Homo sapiens: one gene and its partners. The protein of the gene in region 1 interacts with the protein of each later gene in a pairwise test. Each region holds a gene or a part of one and is shown in the gene's direction. Other genes may lie near its edges.

The links. Proteins that work in one complex are often made in the same cells at the same time.
Region 2: the proteins of RTN1 (region 1) and UGCG interact in a two-hybrid assay, tested with the Homo sapiens proteins (2 studies listed by BioGRID and IntAct).
Region 3: the proteins of RTN1 (region 1) and NDRG1 interact in a two-hybrid assay, tested with the Homo sapiens proteins (one study listed by BioGRID).

Annotation. Positions count from the first base shown.
Region 1 is NC_000014.9:59,867,754-59,875,442, reverse strand, and holds the start of RTN1 (reticulon-1), read left to right. Parts: upstream 1-4,666; 5' UTR 4,667-4,812; coding exon 4,813-5,053; intron 5,054-7,689. UniProt on the Homo sapiens protein: Inhibits amyloid precursor protein processing, probably by blocking BACE1 activity.
Region 2 is NC_000009.12:111,892,966-111,899,834, forward strand, and holds the start of UGCG (ceramide glucosyltransferase), read left to right. Parts: upstream 1-3,848; 5' UTR 3,849-4,250; coding exon 4,251-4,348; intron 4,349-6,869. UniProt on the Homo sapiens protein: Participates in the initial step of the glucosylceramide-based glycosphingolipid/GSL synthetic pathway at the cytosolic surface of the Golgi.
Region 3 is NC_000008.11:133,245,232-133,252,255, reverse strand, and holds part of NDRG1 (protein NDRG1), read left to right. Parts: intron 1-1,712; coding exon 1,713-1,816; intron 1,817-3,484; coding exon 3,485-3,541; intron 3,542-4,329; coding exon 4,330-4,381; intron 4,382-5,592; coding exon 5,593-5,640; intron 5,641-7,024. UniProt on the Homo sapiens protein: Stress-responsive protein involved in hormone responses, cell growth, and differentiation. Acts as a tumor suppressor in many cell types. Necessary but not sufficient for p53/TP53-mediated caspase activation and apoptosis.

The DNA of each region.
Region 1 (7,689 bases):
TAATCTGCAGTGAATTCATTTTTGAAAAAGGTGCCAAGAACACACACTGGGGAAAGGACAGTCTCTTTAATAAAAATAGTTCTGGGACAACATTACATTCATATGCAAAAGAATGAAACTAGACCCCTAACTCTTGTTGTATACAAAAATCAAATCAAAATAGATGAAAGACTTATACTGAAGACCTCAAGCTAGGAAACCATTAAAAGAAAACACTGGGGGCCAAATAGATGTGGTGGCTCATACCTGTAATCCCAGCACTTTGGGAGGCGGAGATGGGCGGATCACTTGAGGTCAGGAGTTCAAGACCAGCCTGGCCAACATAGTGAAACCTCGTCTCTACTAAAAACACAAAAATTAGCCAGGCATGGTGGCAGGCACCTGTAATCCCAGCTACTCGAGAGGCAGAGGTAAGAGATTTGCTTGAGCCTGGGAGGTGGAGGTTGCAGTGAGCCAAGATCACGCCACTGCACTCCACCCTGGGTGACAGACCAAGACTCAGTCTCAAACAAACAAACAAACAAAAACAAGAAAACATTGAAACATTGGGGAAAGTCTCAAGGATATTGGTCTGGGCAAAGATTTCTAGAGTAATACCCCATAAGCACAGGCAACCAAAGCAAAAATGGACAAATGGGATCACATCAAGTTAAAAATCTTCTGCACAGCAAAAGAAACAACTAAGTGAAGAGACAACCCACAGAATAAGAGAAAAAAATTGCAAATTATCCATCTGACAAGGGATTAATAACCATAATATATAACGAGCTCAAATAGCTCTATTAAGAAAAAATATAATGATCCAATTAAAAATGGGCAAAATATCTAAATAGACATTACTCAAAAGAAGACATACAAATAAATAGCAAACAGACATATGAAAAGGTGCTCAATATCATTGATCATTAGAGAAATGCAAATCAGAACTACAATGAGATGTCATCTGACTCCAATTAAAAAAACTAGAGCTACCATATGATCCAGCAATCCCAGTTTTTTATATATTATGGTTATTAATCCCTTGTCAGATGGATAATTTGCAATTTTATTCTCTTATTCTGTGGGTTGTCTCTTCACTTAGTTGTTTCTTTTGCTGTGCAGAAGATTTTTAACTTGATGTGATCCCATTTGTCCATTTTTGCTTTGGTTGCCTGTGCTTATGGGGCATTACTCTAGAAATGCTTGCCCAAACCAATATCCTGGAGAGTTTCCCCAGTGTTTCAATGTTTTCTTGTTTTTGTTTGTTTGTTGGGTATATACCCAAAAGAAAGCAAAAGTATATTGAAGAGATATCTGCACTCCAACGTTTATCACAGCACTATATTATTCACACTAGCCAAAATTTGGAAGCAACCCATGTGTTCATCAAGAGACAAATGGATAAAGAAAATGTGGTACATATACACAATGGACTATTATTCAGTCATAAAAAAGAATGAGATCCTGTCATTTGCACAACATGGATGGAACTGGAGGACATCTGTTAAGTGATATAAGCCAAGCACAGAAAGACAAACTTCTTATGTTCTCACTTATGTGTGGTAAATTAAAATTAAAACAGTTGAATTCATGGAGATAGAGAGTAGAACGGTTTCCCAGAGGCCAAGAAGTGTAGTGCTGGGAGGCTGGCAGGGGCCTGAGGGGCATGGAGGTGGGACAGTTAATGGTAGATATAAAAATATAGTTAGATACGAGTGAATAAGATCTAGTATTCACTGGCACAATGGGGCACCTACAGTCAACAATAATTTATTTTATATTTCAAAACAACAAAAAGATTATAATCGGATTGTTTGTAACACAAAGAAAGGATAAAAGCTTGAGGTGATGGATACCTTATTTACCATGATATGATTATTATTCATTGTATGCCTGTATTAAAATATCTCATATACCCCATAAATATATACACCTACTATGTACCCACCCACAAAAATTTTAAAAAAAATCTCCAGGTTACAGTTGAGGAACCTGGGTTGTAGAGATGTTAGGTAACTTTAATATTGAGGCTGGAAAGAATTTCATCTTGGTTAAAGCTTGTTACTTGTGGCGCTCTTCCTGCATGTCCCCACACCGTGTTTCCCCATGATATATGGTTTGGACTAAGTTAAGAAGCTAGTGCTAAATAAATGCTCCTCATTTCTTCTTTTCAAATGATGAACAAAACTTCTTTTCCAAAAAACAAAAGCTGAAAACAAAACGTGACAGTTCTTTTGTCTCAACTCTTCTTGCTAAGAACCTTTTAAAAGTGACAATCCTATTTTCTCTGTGTCTGAAAAGCATTTTAGAGTAATTCGTAACTTAGAGCAACTATGTAAGCCCCAGAATCCCATTGCCGACTGTGTGTTTTGCCCATAAATCTTCAAATTAGTCAAGCTTTGTCAGTTCAGAGCGGTGCAAAATAAATAATATTAATAAACATGAATCATTTCAAGTCATAGCATAAACCTGAAAATTTCTTCCCCCAAATAGATAATTTTTATACATCCAAAGGTGGAGTCTAATAAGGAAAGTTAGTAATGAAAATTGCTAACACTGAAATCTTGTGCTCATCTCTTTTCAGCAGTGTAAAATAGAATACTTTATCAAAATGGAACTGTCAATAATGTTCAATTTCCTTTAACAACTACACTCTAAATAGATTTAACTGGCTATTTCCTTCACACATTCTCAATGAGAGTATTGATTAGTATGAAAGAAATTGACAAATAATTAGAATCATATCCCCAAACTTCCTATCTATTAATCATAAGGAAACACAGAGGCTTGCTTAGGTCTCCCAGTTTTTTAATGATGACTTTCATTCATGTTTCTCAGAGAAACAAAAGAATATACTTCATATTATTTTGTATGTAACTCCTTTGCATAGCAATTCTCAAATATTAGTATTCATCAATAACCACTTTAAGGTTATATCATTAGAATTGTCTATGTTCTTGTCTTGTTATCAGTAATAAAACCATGAGAAATTCCCATCTAGTATTTCTGATGCTTTAGGGAATACTAAGTAATAGATTTGAAAAAACTTACAAGTGCCCTCTAATTACAAGACAGGATTAAGCTCCATGGAAATACAGCAGTGGAATAAGCTTTTCAACTTAACGGTTTTTTAAATACACTCTTGTTTTCCCATGGAAAGATGTTTAAAAATCATTATGATTCATGATAACCAATTATTTTGTTGTTTTTGGATGAGATTATTTTTATAGATTTATTGAGTTATAACTGACAACACATTAAATTGTTCATATTTACAGTAAACAATAAGTTTTGACATATGTTTGCACCTGTGAAGCTATAACCACAATCTAGATAGTGAATATTTCCATCATGAGACATAATTTTGAGTATGTCAAAAATGTAAAATTTTGGTGACCATCAGATTTCCAGGGATATCTGGCTTCAGGAGGCCATATTTATTGTTTAGTGAATGATTTTTCTCTAATTTATTGTCATCTTTTGAACATTAGTGCACTAGCAGAACAAAAGATTAGGCAGACTCTGGGCTTTTTCATTTTAGCATTATTGAGGAGCACCTGAATGGTCCTGAAGTTGGCCTTTGAATATACCAATGGACAGGTATGAAATCCTCAAGATGCGCATGGTGGCCAAGAGTCCCACAGTCTCACAGTGTGTGCGGTACCGTCTGCGCCCACCTTTCCTAGAGAAGAAACAGCAGAAAAACCTATTCCTTCACCCTGTGTGTTGTGGTGAATCTTAGTTTTTAAAGGCACATTATTTTATTATATAAACAACTTGGGAACCAATAAAACACAAGACATTTGAAAAGATGGGTCTTCGTATGGGCACAACATATGATAAGGCAAGTCACTTTCCTCCTCTGAGTTTGGGTTTATTTGCTGACTATCTTCCATTTTATCACAGTGAACTGTAAAGAAAAAGATGCAAGCTTCATGGAATGTCCAAATTCTGAAATACAACGGACTGCACAGACAGCTTATGATTAGGATGGCCTTGGCTCAGTGTTTCTGAAAGCAAATGTACAGCTTTTGTCCTTGCCTATTGACACCCTGTTTGCCCTCAGGGCTGGTCAGGGTGAGATCTGTTAAGCTTTTTTTGGAGGCTGTCCTGATAACTCATTTCTTTACTCCACTATTTTCAGGCCCATTCTGGAAACGCAGGATTTAACCGCGGGGTTGCAGCTTCCCTGGTCTCCATCTGCCATCAGAACCCATCTCCACCCCTTCCCCGTTCAGACCTGTGTCCCCTCCACAACTCATACTGGTCACTCTCAGAACTGTGGCCCTGAGTTCTCTAGCTTTCCCTCTTTGCCTCGGGACCCAGGACACCAGTCGGGGCTTAACTTTCTCAGTTGGGAAGGCGACGCTGCTGGTGGCTGCTGCTACTTGCTGGTTCTTCCTTTTTTTTCCTCCCCAAACGAGAGGAAGATTCGAGTGGATTTGGCACATCCCCTAACCGGGGCCTGCCATTTGCAGGTTGGGGGCTGACGTGCCCAGGAGGACCCGGACCAAGCAGGCCATTTTCACCTGCGTAATAACAGGATTGGGAATAGCGAAGCAGCGGCGGCAGCAGCGAGTGGAGTAGGAGGAGGAGCGCAGGCAGCGGCCGCGGCGGGGCCGGAGGAAGAGGAGGGGGGAGAAGGAGGAGCTGAAGCGGGAAGAGCGGCAGGCAGCGGCTCGGCGGAGTTGCAGCAGAGGCGGCGGCGACGCTGAGACACCGCAGCTTCCCTGAGCGCCGAGTCCCTCCGGGGACAGCAGCAGGGAGCGCCCGCGCAGCCACCGAGCCTCTGCCCAGCCAAGCCGCCGTCGCCGCGCCGGGGGACCGCCAGCCATGGCCGCGCCGGGGGATCCGCAGGACGAGCTGCTGCCGCTGGCCGGCCCCGGGTCCCAGTGGCTCAGGCACCGGGGGGAGGGGGAGAACGAAGCGGTGACGCCGAAAGGGGCCACGCCGGCGCCGCAGGCTGGGGAGCCCAGCCCGGGGTTGGGCGCCAGGGCCCGGGAAGCGGCGTCGCGGGAAGCCGGCTCGGGCCCCGCCCGGCAGTCGCCCGTTGCCATGGAAACTGCATCCACAGGTAAGGCGGGCGCCGCTGCCCCTCAAATGGCGTCGGGGACCAGGGCCCCCCAGTCAGTCCCCTTCTGCGCGGCTCTCCTGGGCACCTGCCTCGCGCTTTCTGCCTTGAGCGCCGACCCCACCCCCGCGTCGCCACGGGCGACTGGGAATATTCGCGGGCTGGTAGAAAACAACAATTTTATTTTTCCCAAAGGCTCAGAAAAAGTCAAGATGCTTTTGATCCTTTTATTTCATTATCATGATTATTTCCGCTTTAAAAATTGTTCTCATAGGCAAACAGCAGCATTCTGGCTGCTGGCGAGTCTGGGTACAAGTTTCTCCCTCCTGCCAGGAGGCTCCGAGCTGTAGGGCCCGTTTGACAGGTTGTGGGGATTTTGGGGGGCGTGTTTGCGCGCAGTGTGCGCGCCGGCTACAGGAGATGCTGACAACCGAGCGGCGGGCAGGCCCGCGGCCCCTGGACCCGGCTCTGTCCAGGGCAGAGATGTGGCTGTAACTGCCCCTTACCCTTGCCCTCCACGAATCGCCACCACACCTTACTCCCCCCACATCCCTCCGCCTTTTCTCCCGCAGAAAACAAATCCCAGGGAGTTTGTCCCTAATTCGGGAGGCACAGCTTTGCAAGAGGGTTGGGTGCTGTGGCTGCCCCCGCCCAAAACCTGTATTTCGCCGCTGCCCGGATGGCCCCACCTTGCAGGGAGCATTGAAACTTCAAGTCCTAAGTGCGGCGGGCCTGGCTGTGGGTTGGAGGGCTTGGGTGGTGGTGAGTGGACGTGGTACAGTTTACCAGCAGTCTAAGCGCCCCCCCCCCCCCACCCCGGAAATTGCCCTGGGTTTGGCCATTCTTCGCCTGACGCCCTATTCAAAGTCTGAGCGCGCCAGTGTCCAGCGGGAGCCCAGGCCCCTGGCGCATCCTGGTCAAAGGATCCAGGAAGCGCGCTTTGAGGCTGCCGGCCTGGTTAACGCTGTTTCCAGGGAGAGGAAAGGGGATGCTGTGTGGTGCTCTTTCCTGAGAAAGCTTTGCTATGGTGGAGTGGGAGTTGTGTAGTTTTGGCAATGTAGAGCTAGAAGGCCTGGGGTGGGGGGTGCTCCCAGAGGAGGGGAAGGGGAGTGGGACTGGTGTGTGTGCTCTTGGTGGTTGATTTAAAGAAACCCCTTTTCGTAAGCTTCTCTTAAGGGTTATGTGGAATGTCTAAGGTAATCGTAATTAACTGCCCTGGTACAGAAGATCTGAGCTGGGGAAAAGAGGTTTGGAGAATGCGTTGAATAAAAATTGTCAATATCCTGAAAGGAAGAGAAAAAGTGGAGACCCTATATAAGAAAAAAGAAAAAGAAAGAAAGAAAAGTACTCAAAAGCCCCAACGCCAAACGCCAAAGGTTATATATTAATTATTATATCCCTAGGAGTGGGGGAGGATTTAAATCTAAGAATGGCTGCTCAGTCTCTCTTTCAACTTCTGCATCCAAGTGAAAACAAAACTCTTTATAATTGCAAAAGAAGATGGCAAATGATAATAGACAAAGGAAGGTAGTTTTTGTCTTTACCATTCTTTGTTGAGGATAGACTGCTCATAGTTCAGAATCTTTATCCACTGTAATCAAAGTAAATTGTTTCTTTATGAAACATTACCCACCTCCTATTAGTGCCACTAAGATTATGTGAACTAGAAAAAGGAAGCTAAGTGCCCCATGCTCAGTAACATATCCACAAAAGTTATTATATAGGAAATGCTTAGAATATATATTTGTGGGGTACAGTGTGATGTTTTGACATATGTCTGCATTGTCAAATGATTAGCTAACAAATCCATCATCTCATGTACTTTTTTTTTGTGGTAAAAGCGTTTAAAATTTACTCTTTTAGCAATTTCAAAATGTACAGTGCATTGTTACAGAAAGGTGGCTGTAGTAAATAACAATGCATTTTGCATTTTTAGTATTATTATTATAGAAATACCTTGCTTTATTGAATGTGTTTGGGGTTTTCTATCCTAGGCAACAAATATAGTAATAAAATCAAACATGATACTACGTTTGGATGGGAGAAGAATGAAGAAAGATGGAAGGAGCACATATTTTGCATATTTATATAGAAATTTTTTAGTTTATGATTGTGGCTAGAAGGAATTTCTGATATAGTTGTTGATTGGTTAATGTCTTAAATCTCTGTGTTTCTTATTAAGTAGACCGGATGTGCTGCTATAAGAGACTCAAACGCCAGAAATGCTGTATAAATAAATAACTAGATCTTAAAATTCCAAACAAATCTTGTCCAGCTTCCTGGTCTGTTATTTTGGCAGTTCTATTGCTATAAGCAAAGTTAGCAGGTGAGCCCTCAATTGTATCAGAGATGCCTATTAAGCACACTACTTTACACTGTATTTCTTAATTTACTTTTTTTTGGCTTATAAACAGAAATTTATTTTCTCACAGTGCTAGAAGCTGAGAAATCTAAGATCAAGGTAGATTTGGTGTCTGGTCAGGGTCTGCTTCCTGGTCCACACACAGCTGTCTTTTCACTGTGTCCCCACATGGCAGAAGAGTGCTTTATTTTTTTAAAAGAGTGGTGCTTTTTTGGGACTCAACTCAAACTAAGAAGTAACTTAGACTTTGAGTGTGATGCACTGTAAACAGATTTTG
Region 2 (6,869 bases), on another chromosome or scaffold:
TCTCACAACGAAAAACCATTTAAAAATCTTTACAGACAAAGGAGAAAGCTGAGAAATTTTTCCAGAAAGTTTTTCCAGAAAATTTCAGAAGTCACTGAAATTTTTCCAGTGACTTCTGTCAATGGATAAATAAACATTTTATCTATTCATTCAGTCAACAAATATTTAAGTGCCCACAAGGTGCTAAATCCTGGGATCTGATGGCAAACTGGTAATTTTTTTTTTTTTAAGTCAGAGTCTCGCTCTGGCACCCAAGCTGGAGTGCAGTGGCATGATCTTGGCTCACTGCAACCTCTGCCTACCAGGTTCAAGTGATTCTCCTGCCTCAGCCTCCCAAGTAGCTGGAATTACAGGTACCCACCACCATGCCTGGCTAGATTTTGTATTTTTTGTAGAAACAGGGTTTTACCACGTTGCCTGCCACCACGCCCAGCTAATTTTTCTATTTTTTGTAGAAACAGGGTTTCGCCATGTTGCCCAGGCTGGCTTGAGATCCTCCCACCTTGGCCTCCCACAGTGCTGCAATTACAGGCCTGAGCCACCGCGCCCAGCCGCAAACTGGTATATCTTATTCAGACATTTATAGCATTTCCAATGTTATACACATATTTGTATACATATATAAGTAGAACACCTTTAGTGGAACACTCACTAATTTTTTTTAAGAATTTACTTTTTAGAGTAGTTTTAGGTTCACAGCAAAACTGAGCAGAAAGTACAGAAGGTTCCCATATACCCACTGCCATTCCCTCCACCAGCCTCCTCCACTATTAACATCTTGCACCAGAGCACCATATTCGTTACAACTGATGGACCTACATTAACACACCATTATCACCTAAAGTCCATAGCTTACATTAGGGTTCACTCTTGGTGGTGTATTTTCTACGGGGTTTGCCAAATATATGACATGTATACACTATTATAGGATCATACAGAATAGTTTCACTCACAGCCCTAAAAATCCTGTCATCTATTTGTCCCTCTTTCCTCTGCTCCATGGCAACCACAGATCTTTATACTGTCTTCATACTCTTCCCTTTTCTAAAGCTGTTTTAAAACGAAGTTTGGGTAAACATAGTTTAACTAGGGTCAAGTATAATATAACTGATCTTTAATCTACTGATTATACTCAATTTAGCAAATTTGTTAACTCTTAAGAATATCTACTTTCACATTTCTTTGGCCTCTTTTTTTGTGTTATTGGTCATACTGTATAAAATCCTTTGTTGTAAGGTTCCAGAAAACATTTTTGAAAAAATGCAGAATATAAAACAATGCTTAAATTAAGCAATTGGTGTTCCTCAAATCTAAGAGGGCATTTAATGATAAGATGCAGCATTATTTTATATATCACTAAGATGCACTATTATTTTATATTTGAGTAAAAGAAAACCACAAGCCATTGGCTGGGCACGGTGACTCACGCCTGTAATCCCAGCACTTTGGGAGGCCGAGGCAGGTGGATCACGAGGTCAGGAGTTCGAGACTAGCCTGAACAATATGGTGAAACCCCGTCTCTACTAAAAACACAAAAATTAGCCGGGTGTGGTGGTGTGCAAATGTAGTCCCAGCTACTGGGGAGGGTGAGACAGGAGAATTGCTTGAACTCAGGAGGCGGAGGTTCCTGTGAGCCTAGATCACGCCACTGCACTCCAGCCTTGGCGACAGAGCGAGACTCCACCTCAAAAAAAAAAAAAAAAAAAAGAAAAAACGCCAATTAACTCTAAGATGGCATTGACTGTGAGATGCATTCCCATTTCAGAGAAATTAAAATTTGTTAAAGTGTTTTTTTGAAGTGTGCCTTAGAATTAACTACAATCGTAAATTTTTGTTTGGAACGTTATTTCGATGTTAGAATTCTATTCCACTTTTTTTTAAGACAGGGACTCACTGTCACCCAGGCTGGAGTTAAGTGGCGCGATCACAGCTCACTGCAGCCGCCACTTCCCAGGATCAGGTGATCCTACCACCTCAGCCTTCCCGGTAGCTGGGACTATAGGTGCCATAACCATGCCTGGCTAATTTTTTTTTTTTTTTTTTTTTGTAGAGACAGGGTTTCATCATGTTGCCCAGGCTGGTCTCAAACTCCTGGCCTCAAGCAATCCTCCTACCTGAGTCTCCCAAACTGCTGGGATTACAGGCATGAGCCACTGCGCCTGGCCCTCCATCCTGCTATTTTTATCAGCCAGTAACTCTCAACAGTGGGAATTTGATTTTGAAGCATTGTTCTTTCCCACTGATTCTGCACCAGTGGAGCCAAGGATGTTAATCGAGGAATGGTTCGGACATTAACTCTTCTAGTTGTAGTTTGTCATTTAATTGCAGATTGAGGTAGATCATTCAGTGACTATTAACTACCATAAACAGCAATAATAAACAACTTCTTTTCTTTTTTTTAAATTCATCTATTTTTTTTCGAGACAGAGTCTCGCTCTGTCGCCCAGGCTGGAGTGCAGTGGCGCGATCTCGGCTCACTGCAACCTCCGCCCCTCCAGGTTTAAGCAATTCTCTGCCTCAGCCTCCGGAGTAGCTGGGATTACAGGCGCCTGCCACCACGCCCGGCTAATTCTTTGTATTTTTAGTAGAGACGGGGTTTCACCATCTAGGCCAGGCCGGTCTTGAACTCCTGACCTCATGCTCCACCTGCCTCCGCCTCCCAAAGTGCTGGGACTACAGGTGTGAGCCACCGCGCCCAGCCACAACTTCTTTTCAAAATTGAATTCAATTCTGAAATATCTCAAGGGAGGTCATGGATTATTTAAAAGGAAATCACTTGCAACAATAAACATAAAACAATGCAGAAATAGTATAAACTCATCTAGATTGAAGAAACACAAACATTGAGTACTAGCATCTTCTTGGGATGACTTAAAATTAGGACAAATACTTAGTTACCTTACTACCCAAAGTGACATTTCTTCCCATTTTAGAGCTGTGCTGTCCACACGTACAATTAAAATTTTCTAGTAGCTAGCCAAAGTATTTAAAAAGAGAAATTAACTTAATAATTTACCTAATTTAATGTAGTATGTCCAAAATATTACCTTTTCAACATGCAATCAATATAAAATTTACTAACGAGATGGTCTTCCACATCTGGTGTACTGTTTACTCCACAGAGTGGCAAGCTGCCTTTCCAACCCTCACTTAGCCACATGCGGCTACCGTATTGGATGGCAGTCTTAGGGAATTTCAATATCAACTGATTCTTTAATTCTGAATTTGAGAATTTCTTTTTATAATACACACGGTCGCTAAGGCGCTTAGAGATCTGTGAGGCGCATGGAGATTATTTTACTCTCCGGTCCCTTTTGATCCAAGATCCCACAGCATTAAAAGCAGTAAGAGGGAAGGCAATGGGCATCCCTTGCGCCCAGGAACGTGGCCTGGAGGGCCTGGCTGCTCCGAGCAGTAGCAGTGCCCGGCGGGGAGGCTGCAGACGCGGCGTTGGAAGTTGGATTTCTAGACAAGCTCCGGCAGCTGCCCGGAACCCGTGTCTTTTTCTGGGGCACCCAGGAACAGCAGGGCCAGACGGAGAGAGAGCAGCCTCCAGCCAGGCACAGGGTCCCGAGCTGCCACCGACACCGAGGGAGCCCGGCCCAGGGCTGCAGCGCTTTCCGCCTAGGTGGGCGGCAGCGGGAGCGAGGAGCCGGAGGAAGCCCGGCCTGCGTCCTGCGGGCAGCAGGACACGATCTCCCCGGCGCGCTCTCGCCGGCGCCGCAGCGGGCGCGCGGGCGACAGGGTGGGCGTGGACCGATGGGGGCACCGCCCCTGGGAGAGGCGGGCGCCGCGGTTCCGGGGGCGGGACGCGCCGAGGAGTGGGGCGCGAGCCGCCGGTTTTGATTAGTGCGCGGAGCTGCGGCGGTGGAGCTGCTCGGCCGGGAGCCCGGCGGCGAGACGGAGAGGCGGCGGAGGTGCCCGCGCGCAGGGTCTGGTGGGCGGCCGCGAGGCTCGGGAGAGGCGAACCGGAGCGCGGGACCGCGGTCGCCCCGACCAGAGCCGGGAGACCGCAGCACCCGCAGCCGCCCGCGAGCGCGCCGAAGACAGCGCGCAGGCGAGAGCGCGCGGGCGGGGGCGCGCAGGCCCTGCCCGCCCCTTCCGTCCCCACCCCCCTCCGCCCTTTCCTCTCCCCACCTTCCTCTCGCCTCCCGCGCCCCCGCACCGGGCGCCCACCCTGTCCTCCTCCTGCGGGAGCGTTGTCCGTGTTGGCGGCCGCAGCGGGCCGGGCCGGTCCGGCGGGCCGGGGGATGGCGCTGCTGGACCTGGCCTTGGAGGGAATGGCCGTCTTCGGGTTCGTCCTCTTCTTGGTGCTGTGGCTGATGCATTTCATGGCTATCATCTACACGTGAGTGAGGGACCGCAGGAGGGGCTCGGGGCAGGGGTCCGGGCCTCGGAGACAGGCGAGAATGGGAAACGTTTGCGCTTTGAAGGGGACTGGGCTCGGGCGGGGGTGGAGAAAGCTGATCGTCAGGCTGTTCCCCCCGTTCCCTCGCCCCTCGGACCGGCGGTGGCGGTGGTCTTTGCGAGGGAAAAGTGTTGGGCGTGGGAAGGGTTTGCTGGGTTGCAGGCGACTGCCCAGCCAGGCTAAAGGAGACTGCTCTTACGTGTCAGGCTGAAGGTGGTGGCTTGGTTTGATTGTGCTGGGGATTCGTGTAATTTTTCATCTGGGCCGAGATGTATGGTGTATTGTTTTTTTCTCCCGACCTGGGCCACGTTTCTGTTAGGGTGGTGATTGTGTCCACTTTTCTGGGAGCTGCTCACAGCTATCTGGACACCTCTCTGTGGATTTTCTTCTTCCTGGAAGGGCTCTATGCGCTTAGATAGGTGTGAAGCACCTGTCCACCCTGAAAAATGTCCACCAAACCTCCGAGCTGGCATGATAGCTTTGAGTCCTGTCAGCTTGTACATCTCAGCGTGGTTTTCTTTCCTTTTTTCAGTTCCTCGTTTTATTGTTTTATGTAGATTTGTACTCTCCCCGTGCCGGCCACATCTTTTCATTTTTGTTTAACAAATACTTCTTGAGGCCTACTAGATACCATTCACTGTTATTGGCCAGGGGACATGGTGGTGAGCAGGACAGAATTCCTGTCCTCATGAGTCTTACATTCTAGAAGGAAGGAGCAGATAAAATCTAAATAAGGTTATGAGATTGTGACGAAGCGTGTAAGTAAAATAGAACTGGGTGATGGCGTGAATAGAGACATGGGTTATGTGGCTAGTTTGGTATATCCACTGTTTAAGGTGAAATCTGCCTCTGTAAAGAAATGAAAAAATTATATAGAGCACATTACTGATATCGATTCACTTGGATTTTTAGTCTGGGGGGAGAAAAGAGCAATTGTATATAGTAATCGTTACCATGAACTAGAATAGAGTGTATGTTAGTGGAAGAGACTTTAAGAAATTAGTTACTTTTAGTTTTTTGGTTTTTTTTTTTTCCTTTTTACTGCGGAAAAAGTGTGCCTTTGCTTTTGGAAACACTGTATTTTATTAGTATAGTGTGGCATTTCCTGGTACTGAGAAAGATGATGCTGGTACAGGTTATACTGATATTTCTTTGAAAGTGAAAGAAAACATGCCACTTGGATATTGTTGACTTTAGTTTTTGGAGTTGGTGAGCTTAGTCACAGCACATTCTGGAGTTCATTTAAAATATGTGAGTTCTTTTTCTTTAAAAAAATTGTTACTTTTTACCGTCATAAAAATAAAAAATGCTTACTGTGTAAGGAATTTATGCAATAGAGAGAGATGGAGAAAATTAAAATATGCACACACCAAAACTACATTACCTTGTTAACCTTTTGTGACTATCCTTCCAATCTGTGTGTGTGTGTGAGAGAGAGAGAAGGAGGGAGGGGAAGAGGGAAGAGAGAAAAGGACTATATTATGATTATTGTTCTGTAACCTGCTTTAAAGTTCATCTGTTTAATAAATGTTTATTGAAAAGCCGTTTTGTGCAAGGCACTGTTCTAGTTGCTGGAAGAGTGAAGAACAAACATACAAGGCCCCTGTTCACATGGAACTGTCCTGTAAAATGTCTTGACCGTTTTTTGCATGTCAATATCTGTATGATCTCTACATCATTTGTAATAGATGCATGATATTTTAGTTTACCAGGTACCAAGATTTATTTATTATTACTGATGGATGTTTAGGTTGTTTCCAATTTATCTAGATTACAAAGAACACTGTGATGAATTTATATGCATACATCTTTGAGAAATGATCTCATTTATATTTCCGAAAGAGGAATTATTGGGCCAGAAGTGGTGCACATTTTAAACTTTGATACATATTGGCCCCATGGAAATGTTATGTATATTCACAGTCCTGGTAACATTGTATGATGGCCCCATTTTGCCTTACAAACACTAAGTAGCAGGCATTTCACTGTTTTCTGTTTCTATTTTCATTCCTTTAAAGTTACATTGAGCACTTTTAAAATATGTTTATATGCTAGTTACATTTAGATGTAAATTACATACTCATAATCCTTTGCCTGTGCTGCAATCTGTTGCTGAATTCATCTTTCTGATATAAAGGTTGTTTTCTGTCACATGTAGCATTCTTTTCCCCAGTCTGTTTTTTGTCTTTTAACTTTGTACATATATTTGACATGGAGAAAAGTGTGTGTGCATGTGTGTTTTAGGTAGATAGGTCTTTCCGTTTCTTTTACATTTTCTAACTCTGTTATAATTTTTATATCTTCCTTATTCCTCCAAATTATTATATATGTTAGTCTCTGCTTCCTCTTAGTATTTTTTTCTTAATTTTTTCACATATTACCCTGAATTCACCCAGTATTTTACTTCGTTATATGAGAGCTAGAGCCCTAATTATAGTTTCTTCTAAATATTTAGAGACTT
Region 3 (7,024 bases), on another chromosome or scaffold:
GATGTGGTGGCACGCGCCTGTAATCCCAGCTACTCGGGAGGCTGAGACAGGAGAATCACTTGAACCTGGGAGGCAGAGGCTGCAGTGAGCCGAGATCGCGCCATGCACTGCAGCCTGGGTGAGACAGAGGGAGACTCTGTCTCAAAAACAGAGAAAAAGGAAAACAAAAGTGTATTCTCTCACAGCTCTGAGTCTAGAACTCCGATGTCAAGCGCTGGCAGGGCCGCCCCTCCGCCACAGGCTCCAGGGGAAATTCGTCCTTGCTTCTTACTGCTCCAGGTCGCTGTCGGCATTCCTTGGCTAGTGGCTGCTCACACCACTCTCTGCCTCTGTCTTCACATGGTCTTCTCCTCTGTGTCTGTTTTATTTCTCCCTCTCCTTCCTCTTTTAAGGATACTTTCCATTGGATTTCATCCCGGCTCATGTAATCCAGGATTATCTCATCTCAAGATCCTTAATTAATTACACCTGCAAAAACCCTTTTTCCCAGCAAGTTTGCATTCCCAAGTTCAAGAGATTTGACATGGACATATCTTTTGAGGGCCACAGTTTAGCCCACTAGAGTCCTCTTTCCCCTTTTACGATTCATTCCACAGCGTGTGACACATTTTCCCTGTCCTGAGTGTGTAATCTGAAACTGATAGGAATTGGGAAAAATTCACAGCCACTGTCTCTGTTTCACTGGAGGAGGGATGTCAGACATAGCGTTGAGCATCTGATCTGATTATACCCCAAGTTATTTGGAGACTGGTTGGTCCGGCCATGGTGTCTGAGGGTACCCCCAGATCGCTATAGTTGGTTTTGATCTGAAATCCCAGCGTGATTCCTGACTATTTTTTCCAGAGTTTGCTCTTAGTAGCCAGTTGACCTCCTTGCTGCCTAAATGATCCTGGACTGTTTGATGCAGCTCAAGCTTGACACCGGCTTTCTTTGACCCCCAACTCCAACTTCTCATCTGGTTGCCACTGGTCATATCAGACCCTTGTGTGAAACCTACAGTGTCTGCCCTCGTACAAATGAGAAACAGAGCAAACAAGTTGTTTGTCGCAAATAACATTCAAAAAGCACCCAGAGACGGGGAGGCTGAGGCCGACTTCCCCAAGGCTCTGGTTGGCCGTGGTGGGAGTTGCAATTGCCCTTCTTTTCAGTAACTTCCTGTGGCATGAGTTGATTTTGCTTTTCAAGCATGAAAAACTTCTTTTCAGCTCTTCCCATTGGAAAACAATTACTAACATTTGCCTCCAATTTTTACTGTTAGTAGAGGTGAGAACACAACCTCCATTAAGTCCTACAACCTAGTGAAGTAGGCAACATTCTCTCTCTTCCCTTTTTTTTTTTTTTTTTTTTAAGAGATCTGAGGCTCAGAGAGGTTGAAAGATTTGCCTACGAAAGGGACAGTGATGAAGCTAAGCTCTAGATCCAGGATGTCTGACTTCAAATTGAAACTCCCAAAGTAATGAGTTTGGAAGGGTGGGGTGTGGCCTTTCCAGGATGGGGGTCTTTTCTGCTCCCAGCGGATAGTGAAACCCCTGTCTGCACCTGGTTGGGCGTGTTGCTTTCCCAAAGGTTTTTTTTTTAGGTCCGTCGCTGTCTTGTGGATTAGGCATTATTATCTTTACTTTGTCTCCAAATAACCTGGAGAATGGAGAGAGTAGTGACCAGCTCAGGGCCACAGTGCGATGAGGACCATCTTCTCACCTCTCTAAATGCAGGAAGAAATGCAGAGTAACGTGGAAGTGGTCCACACCTACCGCCAGCACATTGTGAATGACATGAACCCCGGCAACCTGCACCTGTTCATCAATGCCTACAACAGGTATTGGGATGTAGTTCAGCCACATCATTGCTATTTATGAGGTGTCTTCTGTAGATCCGAAATGTGGGACAGATGAGAGGGAGAGTATAAAATGAGCGGAAGAGGCAGGCTCTGAGTTTGAGCAAATAGATTAATAGGACAGGTGTCCCCAGGAAGGACACCTGGCCTGTAAGCTGGTTCCTGGCATTCAGCTCGCCTTGCAGGGATCTGAACAAACACTCCAGACCACTGGGGGTGCAGACGTGAGAGGGACGCAGTCGCACACTCAGAGGGTTGAGAGTAAATATGTGTGCCCGCTGCTGACCTTCACGAAAGGCCAAATGTAAGAAGAGCTAAGTGAGAGAGCAGCAAAGCACTCCTGGAGGCCGGGGATAATCCAGGCAGGCTTCTGGGAGTTTGTCATTCCAAGGATAAGGAGGACCTGAACATGGCCTTTGCCTAAGGCGTGGCCCTCTCAACCAGCACTAGGTGCTTATCTGGAGCTCAGCTAGGGGAGGAGACAGCTCAGGGCCATTGGTGTCAGCCAGAGACTCTGTAATCTTCCAGGGAGCTCGCTCAACCTGCTGAGCTCGCTCTGCCACGCTCGCAGAACAGGAGATAGAAATGAGCCTCATAGTGTTTATCTCTGCTCAAATGTTAATAAAGTGACTTCTTGAAATTAACATTTGTAACAGAGCTTAGTATCTGCCTCCTTTTACAATCCTGCCCTCATCTCAGTGGTAACATCCTCACTGTGGATGTGACTGAAGAAACCGAAACCTGGCAGTGCGGTTCACTTAGTAAACACTTTCTGAGAACTGGAGCGAGTCAGGCATTCGGCTGGGCGCTGGAGACACAGAGGAAACCAGCACAGCCCGCAGACTCCACACTGTTAACTTGCCCGTGTAGATAGCACCGTAATTAACTGACCCCTCTCCAAATCCCACTGTGAAGGTCCTGGAATTACTGTCATTTCCTGTTGAGGAAGCAAAGGCGCAAAGAGATCCTGTGTTCTCCCCAAGGCCACACAGCTAGAAAGTGGCAGAGCATGATTTGGATCCTGCTTGTCTAACTCCAGGCTGTGAGCTGGGAAAGAGCTTCTCATGTTGGGAGCTGCAAGATAGCAGAGAGGGTGGGTGGCTGCGTGCAGGAAAGGTGGTCGGCACTGGGCTGGACCCACACTGGGCCTCACACGAGTGCAGTGGGAAACCACCACAGGGTTTGAGACAGGGAATGGAAAGATGAGGCCTGAGTTTTAAAGAGATCATTTGGGTGCTTTATAGAGGACTCAGAGTTGGTGAGGCTGGGACTTAAACTAAGAGGCTGCGAGAGCATTTGGGAGGTGGCCCCTCTGTCAGGTGGGGGCTCTGACTAGGGGGACAGGGAAGGCGGGGACCCTCTATGGTGGAGAATCTGACTTCTACTCCTGGAAAAAAAAGCCCCACAAATATTTGTGACAAAATGAGGGGGCTCTGCTTGAAATGCATGTGTTGTGCTGTCCCTCTAACCAGGTCTGTGGACACCAAGAGGGTGTGGAGTCCTGAAAGCCACAGGGCCTCTCTCAAGTTGGGGATGTGGGTAGCTTACCAGAATGGCCACTGGCAGGACCTCCTGGGCTTGGCTGGATGGGAGTGGGAGATTTCTCCAGGGGAGGGGTCCTCATGCTAATGATGCATTTGTTTCCTGCAGCCGGCGCGACCTGGAGATTGAGCGACCAATGCCGGGAACCCACACAGTCACCCTGCAGTGAGTGGCTTTTCTCTCCCCCAGCACTTGCAGTCGGGGCTGCCCACTATAAAGGTGGCCTTGCTGGCAGGGCCTTCTTTCTGAGTGTGGCAGGACATTGTGTCAGTGAGACCTGGATATATTCCACCCAGAGACTGAGCATTACCCAGCCTGACTTGGACTTCTCCCTGTGCCGGTGGCATCCGTTTCTAGGGTGTCCCCATGACCTAGGCCTTTGATCTTGGAGAAGGATGGTTGATTGTACTTGGGACAGCATTTATTAAGCACCTACTACATCAATAACTGTGTGAGGCTTTGCTCCATGAAGCCTAGGGATGGATAGCACAGGACCCAGCCTTAAAGTGCTCCATACACCTAGGAGGAAAAGACAGTCATGGACAGAACTAACTGGGTTTCCACCAGTAATGATGGTGTCTTTTTGTGGCTGAGTGCACCGCGTTGTGTGACACTTGGGAACCTGGCACGTCATTGCCTTTGTCCTTCATGCTGTTCTTGTTTCGGTCTTGATTGCCAGCTAAGTCCTGCTTAACCATCCTTGAGGAGAAGATGCTTTAAAACAAAAGCACTGAGTCACAGAAATTCCCTGGCTGAAATTCATACTAAGTTGTGAATGACTAGTAACCAATGTTATCCTAAGATCAAAGGAGAATGAAGTAAAAGAGCAAAGGGTGTTGGGGAAACCAAAATGACATTGTTTGTAGAATGCAGGCCCCAGCCTGGCAGGCCTGGGAGTGGGACAATCTTTAAAGGAACCTTGTGCTAATTCTCTGCTCTATCCCTGACCCCAGGTGCCCTGCTCTGTTGGTGGTTGGGGACAGCTCGCCTGCAGTGGATGCCGTGGTATGTAGAAATCACAGCTGATTTCTGTGTTTAATTCAACAGGCAAAGTCTGGTTGACTTTGTTGAAGTGGCCCTGCCTGCCCCTCCTCTCCTCTGCCCCATCAGGGCAGGTGATGTTTTTTGAAATGCCATATTGGCCTTTGGGCAGAGGGCCCAGCCACTCAGTCTCTTTCCCTGGTGGCTGCCAGCCCTGGTTGCTTGGCAGTGTCTCCTCTCCCAGGTCCCCTCACCCGCCAGTCTGTGTCCCATCGGCTTGTTTATATGGGCATGTTTGCCACTTGGCTTCCTGGCCAAGAGACTCACCTCTTATTTGGGAAGCAGCTGGATCTTTCCAAACTGACTGGTGCCTGATGAGCTGGCAGGGGAGAGAGGCACTGGGAGGCAGGGCTTAGCAAAGCTTCCTGACTCCTTTCACCCCTTAACTCCCACCTGCAACTTTGTGGCAGCAAAGAGAGGAATCTGCCTTTCAAACAACCCCACAGCTGGGGAGATGGAAGACTTAGGGGCTATGGATCAGAGTCCTGCAGTACTGCCATGCTTTGTGCAGTGATCTGCAGAGTGACATTTGCAAATGTTCATGTAGTAAATACCTGGCATGCCTTAGTGAACCATGAGTTTCTTACGGGCTGACTGACTGGAGATAATCATGGGATACATCAATAGAGATACACTGTTCAAATCAAGGGAGGTGATAGTTTTACTTTAAGCATTTTGAACATCCTGGGTTACATATGGGTATTCTGCCCAATTCCAGATGCCCCTTTCAAGAGGTTCACTGACAAAATGAAGAGAGAAACCAGTGTGATTTTACATGAAGAATAGTTGTTAGATCTGGGAATATTAAACCTGTAGAATCTCTGGCAGCTGCTGGTTAAACAAGGATATTTATTTAGCAGGTATTTCTACAGTACTGTTTACATTTCGGCTAATCTTCATAATAACCTTTTGAAAAAAGATATTAGCTCCATTTTATTGATGAGGAAACTGAGGCCCAAAGAAGTTAAATCACTTATCCAAGTTGTCACAGCTGGTAATGGCAAGGCTGGGATTTCAAGCCACATCTGCTGAATCCCAATAACTCCACATACTTTCTTCTTTGCCAGCAGAAATACTGGAGTTTCTGGTGACGGTGGCAGAGTGGCGGAGAAGGGGGAGATGTTTTGGCTTTGGCTTCACGTAGAAAATTAACAGATTTCCTCCCTCTTGTGCAGGTGGAGTGCAACTCAAAATTGGACCCAACAAAGACCACTCTCCTCAAGGTACAGGGAAAACAGTGGGGGTTCGTGTTTGTTATTTCTTAGAAACTCTCAGACGTTTTCTGCAACATTGAGTTAGGCTTGAAAAAGGCAAGGCACACGATCAGAAACTATAGAATTAATGATTTAATCTATCTGTTTATGAACATATATTGGGTGCTGACTGGTGATCTGAGGCTGCAAAGATGAGGGATCCTTCTCTGGGACTGCAGGAATCAATAGGCTGCTGGTCTGGGGGCTTTGGGGATAGAGGGACCAGGGATGGCTTGGCAAGGGCCCTCCATAGGCTGGGGCCAGGACATTCCTCCAAGAGGGGCTCTCTGCTTGTCACAATAAGAAGAGACGTGTCCCACAGCCGGGGAAGGTCAGGACTTTGTCCAGCAAGTTCATCTGAGCACATGGTGAGCCAGCTCACTCGCAGCTGGATTTGAGTGTCTGTAGCAACCTCCGCCAGTCCTTTGCCAGTTATGACTGATTGCACAATGCAAACCACTGGCTGTTTGTGGCGGCCTCGTCCGGAGATGCAGCCCAAGAGTGGGAACCTTTCAGAGGGGCCTCTCAGCCGGGGTGCACCCCTGCAGGGGCAGATGACCAGGCGGGACCTGGGTGGAGATGAGGCGGCTCCCTCGCACTGGGGGAAGGACAAAGAGGTGGCATCTGTAGGTCACCGTGCCCTCAACTTCCCCCATAGAAGTAGAATGCCTTTGAAAGGCATGTAGGGGGTGTCCGATACTTATTGAGTGGGAGGCTGTTTTCCTGTATTGGGCTCTTTACATAGATTTTCTTTCAAGATTCCCTCAAAAGGAAATTGCAAGATTAGAAGCTGCTGGGCGTCAAGCTTGCATAATGCCGTACTTTGAGGGCGGTTGTCACAAGTATCACAAAATGGGTGGCTTAAAGCAACAGATATTTATTCCCTTTTAGTTCTGGAAGCTAAAAGTCCGAAATCAAGGTGTGGGCAGGGCCGTGCTCCCTCTGAAGGTGCTAGGGGAGAATGCTGCCTGCCTCTTCCAGCTTCTGGTGGCTGCTGGCCACACTTGGTTCACCTTAGCTAGTAGACACATCACTCCAGTCTCTGCCTCCATCCTCACTCAGCACTCTCCCGATTGTATCTCTGCGTCTATGTCCAAATTTCCTTCTTCTTTTAATAACATCAGCCGTTAGCTTTAGGGCCCGCTCTAATCCAATATGACCTCATCTTAACTTGATTTTACCTGCAAAGACCCTATTTCCAAGTATAGCCACAGTGATAGGTACTGGGGTTAGGACTTCAGTATGTCTATTTTGGGGACACAATTCAACCACAACCTACAGCAAAGGGTAGGTGGCCTGACTGAGGTGGGGTGGCCGATTTGATGGTAGATCCAGAAACAGAACTCACTTAGGC